Linked DNA regions of Homo sapiens. The gene in region 1 interacts genetically with each later gene. Each region holds a gene or a part of one and is shown in the gene's direction. Other genes may lie near its edges.

What was found.
Region 2: changes in PML (region 1) and NFKB2 together harm fitness more than expected from each alone (negative genetic interaction), as found in Homo sapiens cells (one study listed by BioGRID).

Annotation. Positions count from the first base shown.
Region 1 is NC_000015.10:74,016,447-74,027,866, forward strand, and holds part of PML (protein PML), read left to right. Parts: intron 1-6,381; coding exon 6,382-6,962; intron 6,963-8,410; coding exon 8,411-8,481; intron 8,482-11,420.
Region 2 is NC_000010.11:102,386,791-102,398,899, forward strand, and holds the start of NFKB2 (nuclear factor NF-kappa-B p100 subunit), read left to right. Parts: upstream 1-8,914; 5' UTR 8,915-9,006; exon of another isoform or gene 9,007-9,097; 5' UTR 9,098-9,169; coding exon 9,170-9,190; intron 9,191-9,462; coding exon 9,463-9,544; intron 9,545-9,658; coding exon 9,659-9,699; intron 9,700-9,934; coding exon 9,935-10,033; intron 10,034-10,113; coding exon 10,114-10,265; intron 10,266-10,511; coding exon 10,512-10,618; intron 10,619-10,736; coding exon 10,737-10,895; intron 10,896-11,190; coding exon 11,191-11,295; intron 11,296-11,421; coding exon 11,422-11,507; intron 11,508-11,594; coding exon 11,595-11,733; intron 11,734-11,948; coding exon 11,949-12,074; intron 12,075-12,109. UniProt on the Homo sapiens protein: NF-kappa-B is a pleiotropic transcription factor present in almost all cell types and is the endpoint of a series of signal transduction events that are initiated by a vast array of stimuli related to many biological processes such as inflammation, immunity, differentiation, cell growth, tumorigenesis and apoptosis.

The DNA of each region.
Region 1 (11,420 bases):
AGGGATAAATGAAACAATACATCCCAGAGACGAGAAAGAGCTTTGTTGTAATACCTAGATGGGATGTTCTTTGAGTGTTCCCCATTGCTTCCTATTTAAAGTCCAAACTCCTTTACTTAGAATTGATTATAGAAAGTTTAGGAAAATCTAAATAGGTGAAAAGGAGGGATGAGAGAAAGAGGAAACTACTATCACTCTAGACCTTTTCCTTTCCTTTTTGCTATCTCTGTGATCATCTAAAACAAAATGAACAACATTTAGTGTTGTATAACTTGCTTTTCTTATAAATAGTCATGAAGATCTTTCAAAAAAATATACAGTTTTGAATTTTTTAGGCAGTGGCATCTTTTTTTTTTTTTTTTTTTTTTGAGATGGAGTCTCGCTCTGTCGCCCAGGCTGGAGTGCAGTGGTGCGATCTTGGCTCACTGCAAGCTCCGCCTCCCGGGTTCATGCCATTCTCCTGCCTCAGCCTCCTGAGTAGCTGGGACTACAGGCACATGCCACCATGCCCGGCCAATTTTTTGTATTTTTTAGTAGAGATGGGGTTTCACCATGTTAGCCAGGATGGTCTCGATCTCCTGACCTCGTGATCCACCCACCTCGGCCTCCCAAAGTGCTGGGATTACAGGCATGAGCCGCCGCGCCCGGCCGGGCAGTGGCATCTATTGATTGTATGGTTTCTTTTATTTCTTCAGTAATTATAGTGTCTTTACTATGGTGAGAGTAAATAGTCCACTGTGTTTTCTCCTTCGAGATGTAATTTTACACATTTAACTTTGTGATTCATTGGAAGCATATATGGGTATGAAACAAGAAGCAAGGCTCTAACTTCATTCCTGCCCCCTACCCTCCTCCCTAGCCAATTTCTCTGATTCCAATTGTTGAAAACCCCTTTAATGTCCATCAGTTTGGGCTGCTGGCTGGGCGCAGTGGCTCACGCCTGTGATCCCAGCACTTTGGGAGGCAGGGGCTGGCGGATCACCTGAGGTCAGGAGATCGAGACCAGCCTGGCCGGCATGGTGAAACCCTGTCTCTACTGAAAATACAAAAGAATTAGCCAGGTGTGGTGGCGTACACCTGTAGTTCCGGCTGCTTGGGAGGCTGAGGCAGGAGAATCGCTTGAACCCAGGAGGTGGAGGTTGCAATGAGTTGAGATCACGCCACTGCACTCCAGCTTGGGTGACACAGTGAGACTCTCTCAAAAAGAAAAAAGAGAAAAAGATGGGTTGCTTTCTTTGTTATATAAAATATTACATTTCTATAGATGCCAGGGACTACATCAGGCCTATCTGGTCTGTTCTACTGATCCTTCTCTTGACTCTTGAACTAGTACCATATTCTCTTAATAATGGCATTTCTATAATGTGTTATCCCTTCCTTACACTGATTCCTCAAACATTTCTTAGCAGCTGGTCATAGTGGCTTAGGCCTGAAATCGCAGCACTTTTGGGGCCAAGGTGGAAGGATGACTTGAGCCCAGGAGTTTGAGACCAGCCTGGGCAAAATGTTGAGACTCTGTCTCTATAAAATTAAAAATTTTTTTCTTAGCTATTTTATCTGTTTGTTCCTTCATATGAAATTTAGAAACCTAGCCAGGCGTGGTGGCTCACGCCTGTAATCCCAGCACTTCTGGGAGGCTGAGGCGGGTGGATCACCTGAGATCAGGAGTTCGAGACCAGCCTGGCCAACATGGTGAAACCCCAGCTCTACTAAAAATACAAAAAAAATTAGCCAGGCATGGTGGCTCACACCTGTAGTCCCAGCTACTTGGGAGGCTGAGGCACAAGAATCACTTGAACCAGGGAGGCAGAGATTGCAGTGAGCCAAGATTGTGCCACTGCACTCCAGCCTGGGCAACAGAGTGAGACTCAGTCTCAAAAAAAAAAAAAAAGAAAAGAAAAAGAAAGAAAAGAAATTTAGAATACTTTGGTTAAGTTTCAAAAATAATTTAAATTGCCTTAAACCTGTTTATTAACTCAAGGAGAATTAATAATCTTATAATATTTAGTCTTATCTCTTAGTAGGTTTTTGTCATTTTCTAGGTATTTTGTACCTTCTTTTTTTTAATTTAAAAAAAGTTTTTTAGAGATGGAGTTCTTGCTGAGTTGCCCAGGCTGGCCTGGAACTCCTGGGTGTAGGCAATCCTCTCACCACAGCCTCCCTAGTAGCTGGGACTATAGGCACACAATCATGGCTTTGTAGAATTTTTTAAATAGCTGCTGTGAATGGGAAGATGGATTTTTTTCCCATATTTCTTCTCATTTGCTTTGCTAAGATAGAATTATGCTATTTTTCTTTCTTAATTATTATGTAATCTAGCCACTTTGGTGAGCAATTTCTTATTAAGTTAGTGGTGTTTTTGCTTATTGTTTTGAGTATTCCAGAAGCAAATAGATGTTATTTCGCCTTTCTGAAGATACGGTTAAGTCTGGGTTCTTGTCACGGAGCCCTTCTGGGCAGTTTCCCACTTCACCTCTGCCTCCTCCAAAGTGCCAAGCACGCAGCAGGTACTCAGTGAGTGTCCTCTGAATGAAGGTAAAGGAACCGCTTGGCTAAGGTCATTCCTGGCCCTGGGTGGCAGCCCTTTGATTCAGGATCTGCACCTCAGTCTTACCAGAGGGCTGGGGGCTTTTAGACCCAGGTGTCTGATTCAGGCTAGCCACCTCACAGACACTTGCCGCCCATTTCCATCTAGAGGGAAAGCAGGGGCCAGTCACCCTAGGGAGACCCCATTCAGGACAAAAGAAGCTTAGAAAAAGGACCCAGCGGAGGCTATGGCCATCCAGAACGTCTTGCTCTCTATCCAGCCAGGCTGCCTGAGGCGTGCCCTTCCAGGCTTGGAACCCTGTCTCCAAGGAAGGGGATCCAACATCAGACACAGCCCCTCTCCCCAAGTGTCCAAGATCCAAAGGGGGAAAATAACAACTGTTTCTTATTCTCTTCCCTTTATTCCTATACCCTATAGAATTGCCCACATTTATTAGTATTCTGTTTTTTAATTTCAAAAAAAGGAATACATTCATACATTCACAAGGCTCAAACATAATCTAAAAAGGTATGCAGTGAATGTCTTACTCTACCCTCATTCCACCCATCCCATAGCCACTTTTATTAATTTGCATGTCCTTTTAATATTTATTTATTCAAATACAATCAACTATGAAGATATTCTTATTTTTCCCCATTCTTACACAAAAGGTAGCATCTGATACACACATTTCTGCACCTTGATTTCTAACTTAAAATATATATCATAATAATACAAATAGTTAGCATTTATTGAACACTCATTGTATGCCAGTCATTTTTCAAACTTTTATCCATATATTAACTCATTTAATCCTTCCAGTACTCCTATTATTAACCTCATTTCTCCATGGAGAATTTTCCTTATCAGTATATAAAGAGCTTCCTCAATGGCTTACAGCTACATAGTATTCCGTTGTATGGGTGGATCATAATTTATGTAACTAATTGCCTTGTGAGGGACACGTGGGTGGCTTCTAATTCTTTGCTATTGTGGACTGTGCTGCAGTGAATATATTGTATGGATATCATCTTGTTATGTGTAGAGATAGAGCTGCAGAGCAGATCCAAAGAAAGAGGATTGCTGGGTTAAATGCATTTGTAATTCTGATGGGTATTGCCAAATTGCCTTCTGTAGAGTTATTAGTTCTTTTCATAATTGCTTAGTATTTCTAATTAAACGTAGCATTGATGAGCACTATGTATCAGTCTGGCTGGCTAGTAGGCTCTCTGTTGGTGGTTCCAGAACAAGTTGATCTCAGTGTAGTCCCAGATGAGACCCTTTCTTCTGGCCTCAGGTGGGCTGACTTATTCCTTTTTTTTTTTTTTTTTTTTGAGATGGAGTCTTGCTCTGTTGGCCAGGCTGGAGTACAGTGGTGCAATTTTGGCTTACTGTAACCTCCACCTCCTGGGTTCAAGCAGTTCTCCCACCTCAGCCTCCCAAGTAGCTGGGATTACAGGCGCACACCACCAAGACTTATTCTTATCACTGCCGGTGAGAGTAAATTACAGCAATATTTCTGGGGAACTAACAGTATTTTCCCTGGTAATATTTGAAGAAGCAGCCTTGTAATGGTTAAGAACATGGACTCTAAGCTGGACTGCCTGGGTTTTTATATTTTCTTTCGCTGCTGTAACAAACTACCACAAATTTAGGGGCTTAAAACAATGTAAATGTATTCTGTTATGGTTCTGGAGGTAAGAAGTCTGAAACAGGTCTCACTGAGGTATATAAAGGTGTCAGCAGGCTTTGCTCCTTTGGGAGGCTCTCAGGGAGAACGTTTTCTTGCCTTTCCCAGCTTCTAGAGGCTGCCCACATTCCTTGGTGCATGGCCCCTTTCTGTCTTCAAAGCCGGCAACATCACAACATTCCCACCTCTGCATTCATCACATCACATCTCCTCTCATTCTCCTGCCTCCCTGCCCTTTCCTTTGAAAGGATTCACGTGATTACGTTGAACCCACCCAGATAATCTAGAATAATCTCTTTATCTCAAAGTCCTTAATTGAATAACACCTGCAAAGACCCTTTTGCCATAGTAAGGTGACATATTCACAGGTCTCAGGAATTTGCACGTGGACATCTTTAGAGGCCACTATTCTGCTACTACAGTTTGCATCTAGACTCTACCACTTACTAATCGTGTGATCTTGAACAAATTATTTTGCCTCTTGCACCAGTTTTCTCATCCTTAAAATGGGGATAATAATGGTATCTATTCCACTGGATTGTCAGGAGGATTGAATGAGTAAATATTTGCCAATGCTTATAATAGTATCTGAGACACAATAAATGCTATGGAAGTATCTGCTAGCTAAAATATATTAACCAGGCCAGGCACGGTGGCTCACACCTGTAATCCCAGCACTTTGGGAGGCTGGGGCGGGTGGATCACCTGAGGTCGGGAGTTCAAGACCAGCCTGACCAACATGGAGAAACCTCGTCTCTACTAAAAATACAAAATTAGCCGGGGTGGTGGCGCATGCTTGTAATCCCAGCTACTCGGGAGGCTGAGGCAGGAGAATTGCTTGAACCCGGGAGGCAGAGGTTGCGGTAAGCTGAGATGGTGCCATTGCACTCCAGCCTGGGCAACAAGAGCGAAACTCCATCTCAAAAAAAAAATAACCAAATAAAAATATTAAAATACAAACACTTTGATCTAGCAGGCCTATATTTATAATCTATTTCATAGGAACAAAAGCTTCCATGATTAGGCTATATAACTTGGATATTACTAAAGTGTTGTCCATATTGGCACCAAAAGAAAAAAAAAAGGAAAGGAAAACGAAAGAAAGAAAATGCACAAACAGGAAATTACCTGAATGCCAGCAAAACGACAGTGATTGAATCAATTGTGGCCCATCTGGGATATACCAGAGCTATTAAAGAGAATACATCTGATCTGTGCCTATGCACCTAGAGGAATGCTCTGAGTGAAAGTTCGTTGAGAGGAGGAAGTTCAAAGTAATTATATGACTTGATTTATTTCTTTCTTTTTTTTGAGACGGAGTTTTGCTCTTGTTGCCCAGGCTGGAGTGCAATGGCACCATCTGGGCTCACCGCAGCCTCCGCCTCCCGGGTTCAAGCAATTCTCCTGCCTCAGCCTCCTGAGTAGCTGGGATTACAGGCATGCGGCAACACACCCGGCTAATTTTGTATTTTTAGTAGAGACGGGGTTTCTCCATGTTGGTCAGGCAGGTCTTGAACTCCCGACCTCAGGTGATCCTCCCGCCCCGGCCTCCCAAAGTGCTGGGATTACAGGCGTGAGCCACCGCGCCCGGCCGATTTCTTTCTTTCTTTTTTTTTGAACAAACATCAGCCCCCAAAATTATTGTAGATATCTAGGTCAATCATTTAACATGTTCTGTTTCTTCCTCTGGGAAATATGTATAACGACAATTCTCACTCAAGGGGCTCTTGCAAAGGTTAAGTGGCATGGCTGACATGTGTCAAGTCTGTACCATCCTGCAAGCAGCAGCCCAGTCTGGCATTTGTGTAAGGCGGTTTCAGTGGAGAGATGTGTGGAAGGGTGCACCCCACGATGCTCACCTGGTGCTTCCTCGGTGGGGAAGGGAAATTCAGAAGTGGTGGAAAGAGATGATTGTCGTTTCGTATATCTTTGTATTGTTTCCCGGATGTTGAAATTGTTACTGTAGTAACTTTTTATACTCATGTGTTATTGGTAGTTTGGATACTATCACCATAACCACAAACACTGAATTAGGAAAAGCAGAAACCTAGAAACATGCCATGATTCAAAGTCTGGTATTTTTGGAAGAGGAATTTAATAACGAACGTTTTAAGAGGAAAAAGTCAGGAGAGTCCTAACCCAGGCCAACCTTGTGTGTCCACAGCATCTACTGCCGAGGATGTTCCAAGCCGCTGTGCTGCTCGTGCGCGCTCCTTGACAGCAGCCACAGTGAGCTCAAGTGCGACATCAGCGCAGAGATCCAGCAGCGACAGGAGGAGCTGGACGCCATGACGCAGGCGCTGCAGGAGCAGGATAGTGCCTTTGGCGCGGTTCACGCGCAGATGCACGCGGCCGTCGGCCAGCTGGGCCGCGCGCGTGCCGAGACCGAGGAGCTGATCCGCGAGCGCGTGCGCCAGGTGGTAGCTCACGTGCGGGCTCAGGAGCGCGAGCTGCTGGAGGCTGTGGACGCGCGGTACCAGCGCGACTACGAGGAGATGGCCAGTCGGCTGGGCCGCCTGGATGCTGTGCTGCAGCGCATCCGCACGGGCAGCGCGCTGGTGCAGAGGATGAAGTGCTACGCCTCGGACCAGGAGGTGCTGGACATGCACGGTTTCCTGCGCCAGGCGCTCTGCCGCCTGCGCCAGGAGGAGCCCCAGAGCCTGCAAGCTGCCGTGCGCACCGATGGCTTCGACGAGTTCAAGGTGCGCCTGCAGGACCTCAGCTCTTGCATCACCCAGGGGAAAGGTAAGCACGCACGCCACCTTCCTGGGCGGCCTGTGCCTCTGCTGCACCCTAGGGAAGGCGAGTCAGAAGAGATCATCTCCATTTGACAGAAAAGAAAACTGGGTGTTTATTCAGTCTTTGGGGGTTGGTAAGGTCTTAGGTTCCAGGGCACAGGATAAGGGGGAGATGAGGCCCTGACAAAGGGCTGCAGCCACCCAGAGGGGACACATTTTACTAATTTACAAGACTCTGTGGATTGACCTAGCGATGACTCATGGGGAACACGTGAAAGTTGAAAAACTGCAAAGCTGAGAATCAGACCCAGTATCATTTTGGCGCCAGAGGGACCAAGCACTTCAGGAGGTTCTCTTAAGCCACCGGTGTCTCGGAACAGAGAAGTCAATTGGGACCTGGGGTTACGGTAGAAGGGGGCTAAGAAAACCTCCTGGGGATGGTTGGATGCTTACCCAAAACCATACAGTGGCTCAGTGGAGGAGATCCCTTGTCTGCAGGATGACCTGCTGTCTGCCAACCTTTGCGCGCCCTGCCTAGTGTTGGACGCTTGAGAGGTAAGGAGACACAGACTAGTTTCTGATCTCAAGGAGCCAGAGCCACTTCACGTAGCTGGAGAATGAGACAGTGCTCAGCTCTGCAATCCAAATCCGGGAGATGTAGCAGCTGTGTATTAGCTGGAACAGGGGGGCTTTCAAAATAAGGGGTAGGGGGAGTGTGCCAGAGAGTCTCCAGGAGTCTTTGACTAAATCTCCAAGCTGGAATGTGAGCTCTGAGCAGCTAGTATAGGATGCCCTTACTGGGAAAGGGGAGGGAGGCTATGGAATCTGAAGGCACCTGGGTAGGGTGCCAGTGACAAAGAGCTTATTTACTTCTCCTGGAGCTGGACATGGGTCATGAAGGATAATCTTAGAGGGCCTGGACCTGTGCCTTCTCCACCTAGGTAGTGAATGTCACCCATATTAAGGAAATGACCCCACAGAGTTTACACAGCTTGCCTTGGGTGTTATAACTGGGCAATAGCAGAGAGAAGGGTTATTTTATTCTGAAGCATAAGAGATTTAGATTTAATAAAAACCAGGCTGCAGATAAGGAAGATCATGGAGCTCTCACTATATGTAGAGAGTCAGTGAGCCGGTAGTGATGGCTTTATGATTGCGCACACTTAGCCTTGCTGTTGGCTCAGAGATGGAGAGAGGTACACTTGGGGTTTGGAGCCAAAAGCAAGCACTCTAATGCCACCTCCTTTTCCCTTCTGGCTGGGTTCCTGCCCACTGCATTCGAGAGAGCTCTCCTTCCAGCTGCCCCTCCAGGGAGTTGTCCAGTGCTTTGGGATGCCCTGGAAAATAGGTATCCTGGAAAAGCAACAGGGACCTCCTCTCTATCACTGTCCCAGGTCAGGATGTCCCTTACCAGCATGTCCTTGACCTGCCTGTGACCTTCTTTGTGTTCTACAGATGCAGCTGTATCCAAGAAAGCCAGCCCAGAGGCTGCCAGCACTCCCAGGGACCCTATTGACGTTGACCTGGTGAGATGGGTTTGAGGTCTGAAGGGGTGGTGGTGGGGCCCAGCAGGTCAGGCAGGTTGTGAGTCCTGCTGTCCCTGTGTGTGCAGGGAGAGCGTCTGAGTGAGGGACAGCAAGTGGCTGGACTGGAAATTTCAGTGAGAGGAAGTAAAGGAAGACATTAAAGAAGGGTTGGCTGGCTAGCTGGCTCTGACTCTAGGCTCCTAAATGCCAAAGTTGCTCTTGATGGGCCATGAGCCAGGTTCAGTGGGGGTTAGATGTGGGGTAGACAGTCGGCCACAGATCAGGGCTGCTGCAGAGGGAATTCCAGCATTAGATGGCATATTAGTGCCTTCCAGCCATGAGAAACTATGGTTGTCAGATGTATGGTTAGATATAGGGTCAGCAGTCCTGAGGGATGTGCAGATGTCCTCTCCCCTCCTACACCCTACCCCCAATGTGGGAGCCTTCTCTTGGAGTCAGAATAGGTGGGCCTTCCCCTGCTCTTTCCCCACAGATGGTTCTTGGAAAGGAACGGGGAATGGTGCCAGGAGTCAGATTTCGATCCCAGTTGCCCGGGTTCTGCTGGTGTGATTCCAGGGCCACCATACATGTAACAAAGCAGACTGTCTCAGGGTTCAAGGTATCCATGTCCCATCTAATGCTGGCATTCCTTCTGCAGCACCCCTGACCTGTGGCTGTCCAGCTTTCATGTACACATCTCCAGGGACAGGAAGCTTGCTCATTCTAGAGGCAGCTGCTCCCAACTCTGGACTGCTCTGACTTAGAAAGTGCTTTTCCGAGTGGAAATGCAGTGGTGTCCCTTTGACTTGCCCCCTTTGGCATTCACAAGTATGGCTCCTTTCCACCAGAATAAGCATCCTCGGTTTCTTCCTGGACTTGGCATCTGGTCTCTTCCCTAGCCTAGTCACTCAGGTTTGCATGCGCCTAGCCTATCAAGGATCTGGCCCAGGACTGGCCAGTCCTTCATGGACAGCAGGTCTTCTGGTGGTGGGTAGGGGCCTAGCTTTTGCCATGGCATGACCCATAGGAGAGAGAGAGTGCTGTAGGTTGAGGCAATCAGGAGAGGCTTCCTGGAAGAGACAGGACTTAAGAGTCTCAGAGTTTTAGAGCCAGGCAAGAGCATGGAGTCTAACCCCCTTTTTTTCACAGAGGACGAAGCTAAGACCCAGAAAGGATGTGACTTACCCAAGGCTACACACAGCAAATTAGGGGCAAGATTAAAAGCTGACTCTGTTTTTTGTTTGTTTGTTTGTTTGTTTTTTAGATGAAGGCTCGCTCTGTTGTTCAGGCTGGAGTGTAGTGGCGTGATCTCGGCTCACTGCACCCTCCGCTTCCGGGGTTCAAGCCATTCTCCTGCCTCAGCCTCCCGAGTAGCTGGGACTACAGGCGCGCACCACTACGCCTGGCTAATTTTTGTATTTTTTAGTAGAGACGGGGTTTCATCATATTGGCCAGGCTGGTCTTGAACTCCTGACCTCATGATCTGCCCGCCTCGGCCTCCCAAAGTGCTGGGATTACAGGCGTGAGCCACTGTGCCCAGCCTAAAAGCTGACTCTTAACTGCCTTGGGTACTGCATTCCTATATACACAACCTCAAGTAAAAAGAGGAATTTTTTAATATATGTGTGCATAATACAATCACATAGTCAGAAATAAAAACATAGAAAGTGATCAATAGTGTCTTACTCCCACTTTAGCCCCCAGTTCTTATGCCCATATAACTATCTTTTAAAAATTTCTTTTGAGACAGTCTTGCTCTGTCACCCAGGCTGGAGTGCAGTGACACAATCTCGGCTCACTGCAACTTCTGCCCCCTGGGTTCAAGCGATTCTCATGCCTCAGCCTCCTGAGTAGCTGGGATTATAGGCACGCACTACCACACCCAGCTAATTTTTTGCATTTTTAGGAGAGATGGGGTTTTGCTATGTTAGCCAGGATACTCTCAAACTCCTGGCCTCAAGTGATCTACCCACCTCAGCCTCCCAAAAGTGCTGGGATTACAGGCATAAGCCACCGTGCCCCACCTCTTTTTTAAATTCTTATATATCCTTCCAGAATGTATGTAATTACAAGCAAATATTATTATAGATATTTGCCTTTTGCATTCTGTGTTTCACAAAGGTAGGATAATACCAGATACACATGGTATCATACCAGAATTCTTATCCTATCAATAGGTAGAGAGCTTCCCGATACCTTTTTGCAGCTGCATAATGGACCATTAAATGGATATGGCAGGCTTTATTTAGCCAGTTCCTTGTTGCTGCATATTTAGGTTGTTTTGCTATTACAAACAATGCTACAATGCATGATGTTTGCAAATAAATAATATAAAATAATAAGGCCAGGTGTGGTGGCTCACACCTGCAAACCCAGGACCTTGGGACACTGACGTGGGCAGATTGCTTGAGCCCAGGAATTTGAGACCAGCCTCGGCAACATGGTGAGACCCTGTTTCTACAAAAAGTGTAAAAATCAGCCAGGTGTGGTGGCACATGCCTATAATCCCAGGTACTCAGCAGGCTAAGGTGGGAGGATCACCTGAGCCCAGGGAGTTTGAGGTTGCAGTGAGCTGTGATCACACCACTGCATTGTAGCGTGAGTGACAGAGTGAGACCCTGTCTCAAAAAGCAAATAAACAAATAAAATCAAAATAATAATAGGGAAATGCCCTTGGTCCACAGACTCAGCTGTCTTCCAGATGCTAGTCATTGGTGAATGAACAACAAGAGAGCCTGCACTGTCTTGTGTGAAGGTCTAGGTATTTTGGGTCTTTGTCTTGATAAAATCAGAATAGACGTGGCCTCTCACTATCAGCTAGGAAGCAGTTTGAACTTGGAGTATCAGAGGGTTGCTCTTTTTGCCAAGCCTCTGGCTTCAATCCTTGCCTGGGGATGGCAGTGCTGCTGAGGGAAGGAAGTGGGGAACACTGTGAGTGC
Region 2 (12,109 bases), on another chromosome or scaffold:
TGGGATTACAGGTGCGTGCTACCACGTCCAAGTAATTTTTGTATTTTTAGTAAAGATAGGGTTTCACCATGTTGGTCAGGCTGGTCTCGAACTCCTGACCTCATGATCTGCCCGCCTCGGCCTCCCAAAGTGCTAGGATTACAGGCCTGAGCCACCGCAACTGGCACTGGCTAATGTTTTGTACTTTTAGTAGAAATGGGGTGTCACCATGTTGGCCAGGCTGGTCTGAAACTCCTGGCCTCAGGTAACCCACCCACCTTGGCCTCCCGAAGTGCTGGGATTACAGGTGTGAGCCACTGCACCCGGCTGTTTTTGTTTTGTTTTTTGAGATAGGGTCTCCCCCTGTTGCCCAGGCTGGAGTGTAGTGGCACAATCACAGCTCACTGCAGCCTTGACCCCCAGGCTCAAGTGATCCTCCCACCTCAACCTTCAAACAACATTTTAGAGGCATTTTCTCCTCTTACAGATGAGGCTATAGGTTCAGAGGCCAAGTCATGGAATTTAGGGAGCTGGGAATCAAACCCAAGTCAGTGTCACTCTAAACCTTGTGTTCTTTGGTATGACACTTTTTCCATTCAGAAGTAGTGATGGTGAGGCCAGGTGCAGTGGCTCACACACGTAATCCCAACACTTTGGGAGGCTGAGGTGGGCGGATCACCTGAGGTCAGGAGTTTGACACCAGCCTGGCTAATATGGCAAAACCCTATCTCCACTAATAATACAAAAATAAGCCGGGTGTGGTGGCTCACACCTGTGATCCCAACACTTTGGGAGGCCGAGGCAGGGGGATCACGAGGTCAGGAGATCGAGACCATCCGGGCTAACATGGTGAAACCTATCTCTACTAAAAATACAAAAAAAAAAAAAATTAGCCGGGCACGGTGGCACACGCCTGTAGTCCCAGCTACTCAGGAGGCTGAGGCAGGAGAATCGCTTGAACCCAGGAGGTGGAGGTTGCAGTGAGCTGAGATTGTGCCACTGCACTCTAGCCTGGACAACAGAGCGAGACTCCCTCTCAAAAAAAAAAAAAATTTAGCCAGGAGTGGTGGTGGGCACCTGTAATCTCAGCTACTCGGGAGGCTGAGGCAGGAGAATCGCTTAAACCTGGGAGGCACAGGTTGCAGTAAGCCGAGATGGCACCACCGCACTCCAGTCTGAGCAAGAGCGCGAGACTCTGTCTCAGACAAATAAATAAATAAATAAATAAATAAATAAATAAATAAATAAATAAATAAAAGTAGTGGTGGTGGTGGTATAGAAACCCTCCAAAGCTAAACACATTTTCTGTAGCTTCTCATGTGAAATAAAAGGCTAAGTACCTGAGGAAACAGGTTATTACCTAGTGAGCTCAGAGTTTAGTAGGAGTTTATAAAAACTGGAAACAGATGCCCACAACCAAGAAAAATATGTGAATTTTCTACACACATAATGATATGAGAAAGAACAAAATATAGAATGAGCTACAATGGGCATTCCTCCCTGCCCCGCCACCAAATAGAAAAAAATACTAGGAACAACAAAAGCTGTGGTTATTGGAGCCATGGGTATTTACCTTTGTTGAGGGCTCACTGGTTGGAAGACAAGTGGCTGTGAATGAGCAGAGTCACTCAGCCCCAGGGCTCCCATTGAGAGGGGCCTGTAATCCCAGCTACTCAGGAGGGTGAGGCAGGAGAATCGCTTGAACCCGGGAGGCAGAGGTTGCTGTGAGCTAAGATTGTGCCACTGCACTCCAGCCTGGGCAACAGAGTGAGACTGTCTCAAAAAAAAAAAAAAAAAAAGGCTGGGCACGGCGGCTCACGCCTGTAATCCCAGCACTGTGGGAGGCCAAGGCGGGCAGATCACGAGGTCAGGAGTTCAAGACCAGCCTGACCAACATGGTGAAACCCTGTCTCTACTAAAAATACAAAAATTAGCCGGGCGTGGTGGCGGGTGCCTGTAATCCCAGCTACTCGGGAGGCTGAGGCAGGAGAATCACTTGAAACCGGAAAGCGGAGATTGCAGTGAGCCGAGATGGCGCCGCCGCACTCCAGCCTGGGCAACACAGTGAGACTCTGTCTCAAAAAAAAATAATAATAATAATTAAAGAGAAATAAAAATAAGTAAAAGGAAAAATTCTTGATACCCCCTACAAATCTGCTCCTCTCTCAGTGTGCCCCACATCACTAAAGGACAATTCCATTCTTTTTATGCCAAAACCCCCTCTTTTCTCACATCCTGCATCTAATCTTCAGCAAGTCTTGTTACTTCTATCTTTAAATCTATCTAGAATTGCGATTACTTCCCACCACCTTCATCATCCACTAGCACCCAAGCCTCAGCCGCTGTCTGTTGGACTCCTGGTCTCCCTCCTTCCTCCTAGGTCCTTGCATTCGATAGTCTTTACACAGCAGCCAAACGGATCCTTTTCTGTTTGTTTGAGACGGTCTCGCTCTGTTGCCCAGGCCGGAGTACAGTGGCACAATCTAGGCTCACTGCAATCTTCACCTCCTGGGCTCATGCAGTTCTCTGACCTCAGACTCCTGAGTAGCTGGGAATATAGGTGCATGCCACCACACCCAGCTAATCTTTGCATCTTTTGTAGAGAAGGGGTTTAACCATGTTACCCAGGCTGGTCTCGAACTCATGGGCTCAAGCAATCCTCCTGCCTCGGCCTTTCAAAGTGCTGGGATTACAGGCATGCAGCCCAAATGGATCCTTTTAAGACACATTATACCCCAGCCTGGACAACACAGCAAGACCTTGTCTCTAAAAAAAAAAAAAAAAAACTAAAAAATAAAAATTTAGGCTGGGCATGGTGGCTCACACCCATAATCCCAACACCTTGAGAGGTCAATGTGGGCAGGTCACTTGAGCGCAGGAGTTGGATACCAGCCTGAGCAACATGGTGAAACCCATCTCTACAAAAAAATGCAAAAATTAGCTGCACATGGTGGCATGTGCCTGTAGTCCTAGCTACTCAGGAGGCTAAGGTGGGAGGATTGCTTGAGCCCAAGAGTTTGAGGCCGCAGTGAGCTATGATCACGCCACTGCACACCACCCTGAGTAACAGAATGAGAGCCTCTCTCAAAAAAAAAAAAAAAAAAAAGGATACATTATACAATTTTCACTCCACTGCTCAGAACTCTCTAACGGCTTTCCATCTTGATCAGAACAAAACCCAAAGTTATTACTTTATTCCACCTACTAACTTTCTTGCTGTTCCTCAAATATGCCAAACACTTGTATCAGAGCTTGGCCCTACTGTTCCCTCCACCTGGAACACTCTTCCTCCAGATATTCCCCATGACTCACTCCCTCACTTTTTCAAGTCACTGTTTAATTGTTACCTTATCAGAGAGTCCTGCTTTGACTGATACCTAGAAAATCCTTGTCACTCTCAATCCTTTACCTACTTAATTTTTCTTTGTAGCACTTATTACCAACTGATATATATCTGTTTGAGTTTTGCCTGCAAGCAGCGGTGTTGTTTAATGGAGTGGGCTCTCACTATTTATCGGTAAATGAATGGAATAAATTAGTGGTGCATCTGCTCTGGGCTAGGCATTGTGCTAGAGCTGGGTGCGGAAACAGATGACGATTAGGATGAAAATTAGTGTAACATGCAATGAAGAACTTTCTTTCTTTCTTTCTTTCTTCTTTGTTTTGAGATGGAGTCTCACTTTGTTTTCCAGGCTGAAGTGCAGTGGCATGATCTCGGCTCACTGCAACCTCCACCTCCCAGATTCAAACGATTCTCCTGCCTCAGCCTCCCTAGTAGCTGGGACTACAGGCGCCCACCACCACACCCTGCTAATTTTTGTACTTTTAGTAGGGACAGGGTTTCACCATGTTGGCCAGGCTGGTCTCGAACTCCTGACCTCAAGTGATCCACCCGCCTTAGCCTCCCAAAGTGCTGGGATTACAGGTATGAGTCACTGTGCCCAGCCTAACAAAGAGGTTTCTTAAGCCCAGATAGATGAGGCTCTAGCAAGTGACAAGCTATTTTGAGTTAGTTTAAATCTCCAGGCTAACATGCATTAGGAATTGTTGAATCTGACAGAGGGGCACACGAGGGCTCATTATACTATTCTCTCCACTCTTCTTTTTTTGAGACAGCGTCTGTCTGTCACCTAGGCTGGATGGAATGCAGTGGCACGAACATGGCTCACAGCAGCCTCAACTTCCTGGGCTCAAGCAATCCTCCCACCTTAGCCTTCCGAGTAGCTGGGACTACAGGCACTCACCATCACATGTGGCTAACTTAAGTAGACATGAGGTCTCCCTATGTTGCCCAGGCTGTTCTCAAACTCCTGAGGTCAAGTGATCTGCCTGCCTCAGCCTCCCAAAGTGAAAATCTTTGTATGTTTGAAATGTTCTCTAATAAAGGTCTTGTTTTGTTCATCTTTAGATAAATTACGCCTTAGACTGTTGTAACTAAAATAGCTCAACCCTTAGGGGTGCTTTTAGAGATGTTGTGGAGACTCAAAGAATCCGTGCTGATTTTGGTGGCAATTTATGAGCACTTTGAAAGGATAGATGTGATCAGTGGTAACCAGCACGGGTTTACTAAGCTAGAGTATACCAAGATGAATTTACTCCATTATACATTTAATTTTTAATTTTTAATTTATTTATTTAGAGACCTAGTTATGAGACAGGCTAATTTTTGTATTTTTGTGGGGAAAAGCAAGAGAGATCAGATTGTTACTGTGTCTGTATAGAAAGAAGTAGACATAGGAGACTCCATTTTGTTCTGTACTAAGAAAAATTCTTCTGCCTTGAGATTCTGTTAATCTATGACCTTACCCCCAACCCCGTGCTCTCTGAAACATGTGCTGTGTCAAACTCAGGGTTAAATGGATTAAGGGTTGTGCAAGGTGTGCTTTGTTAAACAGATGCTTGAAGGCAGCATGCTCGTTAAGAGTCATCACCACTCCCTAATCTCAAGTACCCAGGGACACAAACACTGCGGAAGGCCGCAGGGACCTCTGTCTAGGAAAGCCAGGTATTGTCCAAGGTTTCTCCCCATGTGATAGTCTGAAATATGGCCTCGTGGGAAGGGAAAGACCTGACCGTCCCCCAGCCCGACACCCGTAAAGGGTCTGTGCTGAGGAGGATTAGTATAAGAGGAAGGAATGCCTCTTGCAGTTGAGACAAGAGGAAGGCATCTGTCTCCTGCCCGTCCCTGGGCAATGGAATGTCTCGGTATAAAACCCGATTGTACGTTCCATCTACTGAGATAGGGAAAAACCGCCTTAGGGCTGGAGGTGGGACATGCAGGCAGCAATACTGCTTTGTAAAGCATTGAGATGTTTATGTGTATACATATCTAAAAGCACAGCACTTAATCCTTTACCTTGTCTATGATGCAAAGACCTTTGTTTGTCTGCTGACCCTCTCCCCACTATTGTCTTGTGACCATGACACATCCCCCTCTCAGAGAAACACCCATGAATGATCAATAAATACTAAGGGAACTCAGAGGCTGGCGGGATCCTCCATATGCTGAATGCTGGTTCCTCGAGTCCTTTCTCTATACTTTGTCTCTGTGTCTTTTTCTTTTCCAAGTCTCTCATTCCACCTCACGAGAAACACCCACAGGTGTGGAGGGGCAACCCACCCCTTCAATTTTTTGAGACGGGGTTTCACCATGTTGCCAAGGCTGGTCTCGAACTCCTGGGCTCAAGTGATCCACCAGCCTTGGCTTCCTGAAGTGCTGAAATTACAGGTGTGAGTCACCATGCCCGGCCTTAGTCCATTTTAATTTAAGGTTAGGAATCTGACTTACCAGAGAAACGTAGTAGACAACATATCTGGATTTCAGCAAATTGTTTGGCAGAATCTTATGATATTTGTTTGAGAGGCCCACAGTAAGGTGGAAAGGGCTGCTTTGTTTTATATAAACTTAGGGGAGAAAGCTTCATCCTGGAGTCAACAGATTGGGTTTGAATCCTGGCTCTGTCCCTTTCTAGCTGTGTGTTTGGTTGTTACTCCACCTCTCTGAGCCTTAATTTCTTCATCAGTAAAAGTAATATTCACCTCCTAGGGTTGTTGGGAGGGAGAATAAGAACTTCTAAAGTACCCGAACCTAGCAACTAGGACACTATATTTGCAGGCAAGATGAAGAGGGGTGGGGAAGTAATAGGAAACAGCCCAAATCGAGAGCCATAATAGTCTCTCTTTACTTAGTGCCAGTGCAGGCCTGTGATTCTGTTCTTAAAAACGTCTGGGGCAAGCTGCAGGAAAGACCCGAGATAGTTTATGTTCTACCATAAGCCTAAGGGAGGAGGACTCCAGGCAGGGAGATTACTCATGGCACCTGCTAAGGAGAAACGCTACTGACCAGAGAGAGGTCCAGTCATGTACTCCGTGCTTGGTGAATTTCTGTCCTGACCTCGCTGCCTCTAGAAGTGTTCAGGTGGAAATTGGAAGGTCTATAAGAGGCAATTCGGCAGCATACAGTGGCTCACGTCTGTAATCCAAAATCCAAGCATTTTGGAAGGCCAAAGTAGGAGGATCACTTAAGCCCAGGAGTTTAAGACCAGCCTAGGCAACGCAGTGAGATCCATCTCCACTAAAAATTTTAAAATTTGCCAGGTATGGTGGTGTGCACCTGTAGCCCCAGCTACTCAGGAGAGTCAGAGAATCGGCGCACCCCGGAGTTCGAGGTTGCAGTGAGCCATGATCACGCCACTGTACTCCAGCCTGGGTGACAGAGCAAGACACTGTCTCAAAAACATAAATAAATAAATAAATAAATAAATAGGCCGTGCGCAGTGGCTCACGACTGTAATTCCAACATTTTAGAAGGCGGAGGCCAGCGGATCACCTGAGGTCAGGAGTTCGGGACCAGCCTGACCAACGTGGTGAAACCCCCAACTCTACTAAAAATACATAAATTAGGCGGGCGTGGTGGTGGCCGCCTGTAATCCCAGCTACTCGGTAGGCTGCAGCAGGAGAATGGTTTGAACCCGGGAGGCAGAGGTTGCAGTGAGCCAAAATCCCCTCACTGCATTCCAGCCTGAGACTAAAAAAAAGAGGCGATTTCCCACATCGGTGGAAATTTGAGCTGTTTAAACTCTGGATGCCTTTTTCAGTTCTAATATTCCAGATCTCCTTGGTGGATAAACACTTCATTTCCCTTCTCCTGAGCAGAGCTCCTGAGCCCTGGCCCGCTGGGAACCTGTCACTTCTAAAAAAGTTCGAGGTCCGGACTGTCTCTCCCGGAGCCTTGAGGCTGATGAGACGGAGCGAGAGAGGGGCCGGGGCCGAATGGAGTCTACTCGCGGGCCCAGGGAGGCCGCCAGAGGGCGCCCGGGACCGACCGCAAGAATAACTTCCTTCCTCTTCCGCTAACTTCCCGGCAGCGCGCCGCTCAGGGTGGGGGCCCCGAGGGCTGGGGCCGTCGGCTTCCCCCTGGGGATCCCCCGCTTCAGAGAAAGCCAAGCGTTAGGCGCAGCCAAAGCCGAGAGGCAGCGGAAGCTCCCGGCCCGGGGTGGCGCTGGGTCAGCGGGTACCTTCTCGGCGGTCCCCTGGCCGGCCGAACTCGCGCCTGGTGTCCTGTCACCCCGCTCCCCGCCCTGAGTGAGCCTGTCCCCTCTCAGGGGCGCGCCCGAGTCGCTCCGGGTTGGCTGCGCCAGTCCAGAGTTAAACTTTCAGCCAATGAAAAAGGGCGCGAGGCGTGACGCACGGAAACGTCATGGGAATTCCCCCCTCCGGGGGGCCGAGAAGGGGCTTTCCCGGCCCTGAGCCCTGCTGGCAGGCGAGGTGTCGCGACCGGTCCCAGGTGGGTCGGGCGCGGAGAGAAGCCGCAACCAGAGCCGCCGCCACGGTGAGTGGCTGGATTCAGACCCCTGGGTGGCCGGGACAAGAGAAAAGAGGGAGGAGGGCCTTTAGCGGACAGCGCCTGGGGCTGGAGAGCAGCAGCTGCACACAGCCGGAAAGGGCGCGCAGGCGACGACACTCGGATCCACGTCGACACCGTTGTACAAAGATACGCGGACCCGTACGTACACCTGTACCTGTGCTGGCGCACACACGGCAGCGTCCGTGCAGTCGCACTCGCACACACATGCACACGGAGACGTGCCCACCGGTGCACTGGTGCCTGCACCCACACCCTTCACGCACAAACTCAAGATACGCTCACCCGTGTCCGTACATCAAGACAGGCGCTGACACACACCCACACTGAGAAGCTCGGGATTCACCTATCTACACACATGCTCGCTTGCACACTCATGTTGACGCCATGGACACACAACATGCAACCAAGCACTACAGCCGAAACACACTTGTGGAGCTGTGATGGAGACACACTCTTGTATTAGGTGGGGGGGGGGGGGGGGGAGCGTGCAGAGATCTCCCTGTCGCCTGCGCGCCCAGAACCGGTGCGGTGTGGGACCAGCTGCTGTTGTGAGGTTTGGGAGAGAGAGAAAAGAGCCCACTCCGAGGAGGAGACACTTTTCCCGCAGCCCCAGAATCGCGTTCTCGGGGCAGAACCCCGGGGCCTCCCACAGGAAAGAGCCCCCGCCTACAGGCTGTTCGAAGGGGAGGCCGTCCGACAGCAGGAATGTCCCCCCAAAAGCCCCCGGGGTTTATCAGCCGTGGCCTCCCTCCTGGCAGAAAATCCCAAGGTTGCTCCAGACCGGGGGAGGGGAGCGGGAGGCGGACTTGGCCCCAGACTGCCAGCCTCCTCCCGGCCGTGAAAGACCCTCCTGTTCCCTGCCCTGGAGGGAGGAGGGGGCTTAACCCCCACCGGGGCTTCCCGGATTCTCCTAGACCTCTGCCCGCTGAAAAGCAGCGGGAGCCCGTAGACTGTCGAGGGCCTCCCGCCCCTCCCGTCGCGAGGGCGGGGCCAGTGGCGTCATTTCCAGGCCCGCCCCCTCCGGCCCCGCCTCCCCTTGGTATTTTCGGGACTTTCCTAAGCTGCTCTAACTTTCCTGCCCCTTCCCCGGCCAAGCCCAACTCCGGATCTCGCTCTCCACCGGATCTCACCCGCCACACCCGGACAGGCGGCTGGAGGAGGTCGGACCCTCCCCCAAATCTGGGCCCCCATCTCCCGCCCACCCCCATTTAGATCTGACCCCCTCCCCCACGCCACTCCTCCCAACTTTAGGCGGGCGTCTAAAATTCTGGGAAGCAGAACCTGGCCGGAGCCACTAGACAGAGCCGGGCCTAGCCCAGAGACATGGAGAGTTGCTACAACCCAGTGAGTCATGCCGCCTGCCCCTGACCCGGCCGGCTGCCCCTCGTGTCTGTCCACCTGTCTGCCCGAGCCCCCTCTGCTGCCTTACACCTGTATGCTCGCAGATGCTCTCAGCCTGCCAGTCTGTCCATCTGTCTGCAACTCTGCCTCCAAAAGGAGCTTTCTCTTGGGTCTGAGGAGGAGGGGGGAGTGACCACTGAAGACTTGGAGATGGGAGGTGGGGCTGTGGGGGGTGCTGAGAGTCGGATGCCACCCCCAGTCTGTCTCCAAACCAGGGTCTGGATGGTATTATTGAATATGATGATTTCAAATTGAACTCCTCCATTGTGGAACCCAAGGAGCCAGCCCCAGAAACAGGTCAGCAAGTTCACTAACCTCCCCTAGTCCTAAAGCGGGGGAGGGAGAGCATGTGCCCTCTCTCTGGGGGAGGGGCTGGGAGATCGTGGCTCAGCAAGGTCTCTCTGTCCCCAGCTGATGGCCCCTACCTGGTGATCGTGGAACAGCCTAAGCAGGTGAGTGAGCAAAAGGGAGGGTGTGGAATGGCTTCAGCTTTGGGGACAAATGGGGTAGTGGTAGCTGGCTGGCCATGGAGGAGCCATTGCCGAAGGAGGCCACAGGGGATTGGATGGTCACTGCTGCTGATCAGAGTGCTGTAGTTTGGTTCAGGGCTACTACCAGGCACTGCGGTCACTGCTGGCCTGGGTGGTCTTCCCTGATCACAATGCTACTATGCCCTTGGACCTTCAGAGAGGCTTCCGATTTCGATATGGCTGTGAAGGCCCCTCCCATGGAGGACTGCCCGGTGCCTCCAGTGAGAAGGGCCGAAAGACCTATCCCACTGTCAAGGTGAGCCAGGATGGTGCTGGAGGGTGGGCTAAGTGGACAGCATGCCCAAGGCCCTGACTGACAGTCCCTGCCTCTCCTAGATCTGTAACTACGAGGGACCAGCCAAGATCGAGGTGGACCTGGTAACACACAGTGACCCACCTCGTGCTCATGCCCACAGTCTGGTGGGCAAGCAATGCTCGGAGCTGGGGATCTGCGCCGTTTCTGTGGGGCCCAAGGACATGACTGCCCAGTAGGTGCCCTCTACGCCTGGCCCCCACTGGTATGCCCGTCTGCCAGTCCCAGGCCCCAGCCCACCTCCATGAGCTTAGCATCTGACCAAGGGGAAAGATGTAGGTTGGCCCCAAACCCAAGGGCCTAAGTAGAAACTCCAATGGCTTCCTTGAGGAAGTAAGGCTGAGCTGAGCCCTGGCAATGGGAAAGGTGCCTCAGGAAGAAAGAACTGCATGGCCAAAGGCCTCCGATTCTCTCTTCTCAGATTTAACAACCTGGGTGTCCTGCATGTGACTAAGAAGAACATGATGGGGACTATGATACAAAAACTTCAGAGGCAGCGGCTCCGCTCTAGGCCCCAGGGCCTTACGGGTATGGGTGCAGGGGGTGGGTCGGGTATGGGTGCAGGGGGTGGGTGGGTCATGGGAGGTGCTCATGGAAGGAGCAGGGAGGGAGAAGCCCAGGGGTCACACATGTACCTACTGCCCAGAGGCCGAGCAGCGGGAGCTGGAGCAAGAGGCCAAAGAACTGAAGAAGGTGATGGATCTGAGTATAGTGCGGCTGCGCTTCTCTGCCTTCCTTAGAGCCAGTGATGGCTCCTTCTCCCTGCCCCTGAAGCCAGTCATCTCCCAGCCCATCCATGACAGCAGTGAGTATCCTGATTGCCTGGGGTGCCAGGCCTGGTGGCAGAGGTGGCATGAGGGGTGACCTCAAGCTGTGCAGTCAAACAGACCCAGGTTTCAGAACCTGGCCCTGCCACATATGAGCTGAGTGATCCTGAGCAAGTCATTTCCCCCCCGAAGCTTCTGTCTTTAGTAAATGTGTATATTGGGTGTTTCCTGCAGCTCCAGGGGTTGCTGAGATAAGGAATACAAAGCCCCCAGCTTCTTAAATGTGGCCTTGGCTATTGCATCATCTCAACTAATCCATATCCCACTCCATAGAATCTCCGGGGGCATCAAACCTGAAGATTTCTCGAATGGACAAGACAGCAGGCTCTGTGCGGGGTGGAGATGAAGTTTATCTGCTTTGTGACAAGGTGCAGAAAGGTGAGACTGGAGCCCACTTTGGGCACCAAGGACATCGAGTATAAGACTGGGGCCAGGGAAGCTCTAGGGTAAATGGCCCCAGAGATTCCACCGGGAGCTGTGGCCAAGCTTCCGTTTTCCTTGTAGATGACATTGAGGTTCGGTTCTATGAGGATGATGAGAATGGATGGCAGGCCTTTGGGGACTTCTCTCCCACAGATGTGCATAAACAGGTACCCAGGGCTAGGGCCCGGGCCCGGGCTGGGGGCTAAATTAGGCTAAGGACTCACTGACACCCTGTGTCTCCCTGCACCCCCCAGTATGCCATTGTGTTCCGGACACCCCCCTATCACAAGATGAAGATTGAGCGGCCTGTAACAGTGTTTCTGCAACTGAAACGCAAGCGAGGAGGGGACGTGTCTGATTCCAAACAGTTCACCTATTACCCTCTGGTGGAAGGTGGAGCTGGGCTGAGGACCTCAGGGTGCTGGCGGGGGGCCAGGCTGGGCTAGAAGAAGGTCCCAAGAGCTAGATGTGGGGATGCATGAGCCAAGTCAGAAGTGCGAGGGTCCCAGGAGGTGCTTCCTAGGAGCCGGCCCTGAGGGCTCTTCTGGGAAGGGCCCCTGAGGCATGACACAATAACTGGGCTCAATCTCATTTTCCTCTGCCCCCAGACAAGGAAGAGGTGCAGCGGAAGCGGAGGAAGGCCTTGCCCACCTTCTCCCAGCCCTTCGGGGGTGGCTCCCACATGGGTGGAGGCTCTGGGGGTGCAGCCGGGGGCTACGGAGGAGCTGGAGGAGGTGAGGGGGTACTGATGGAGGGAGGGGTAAAGGTA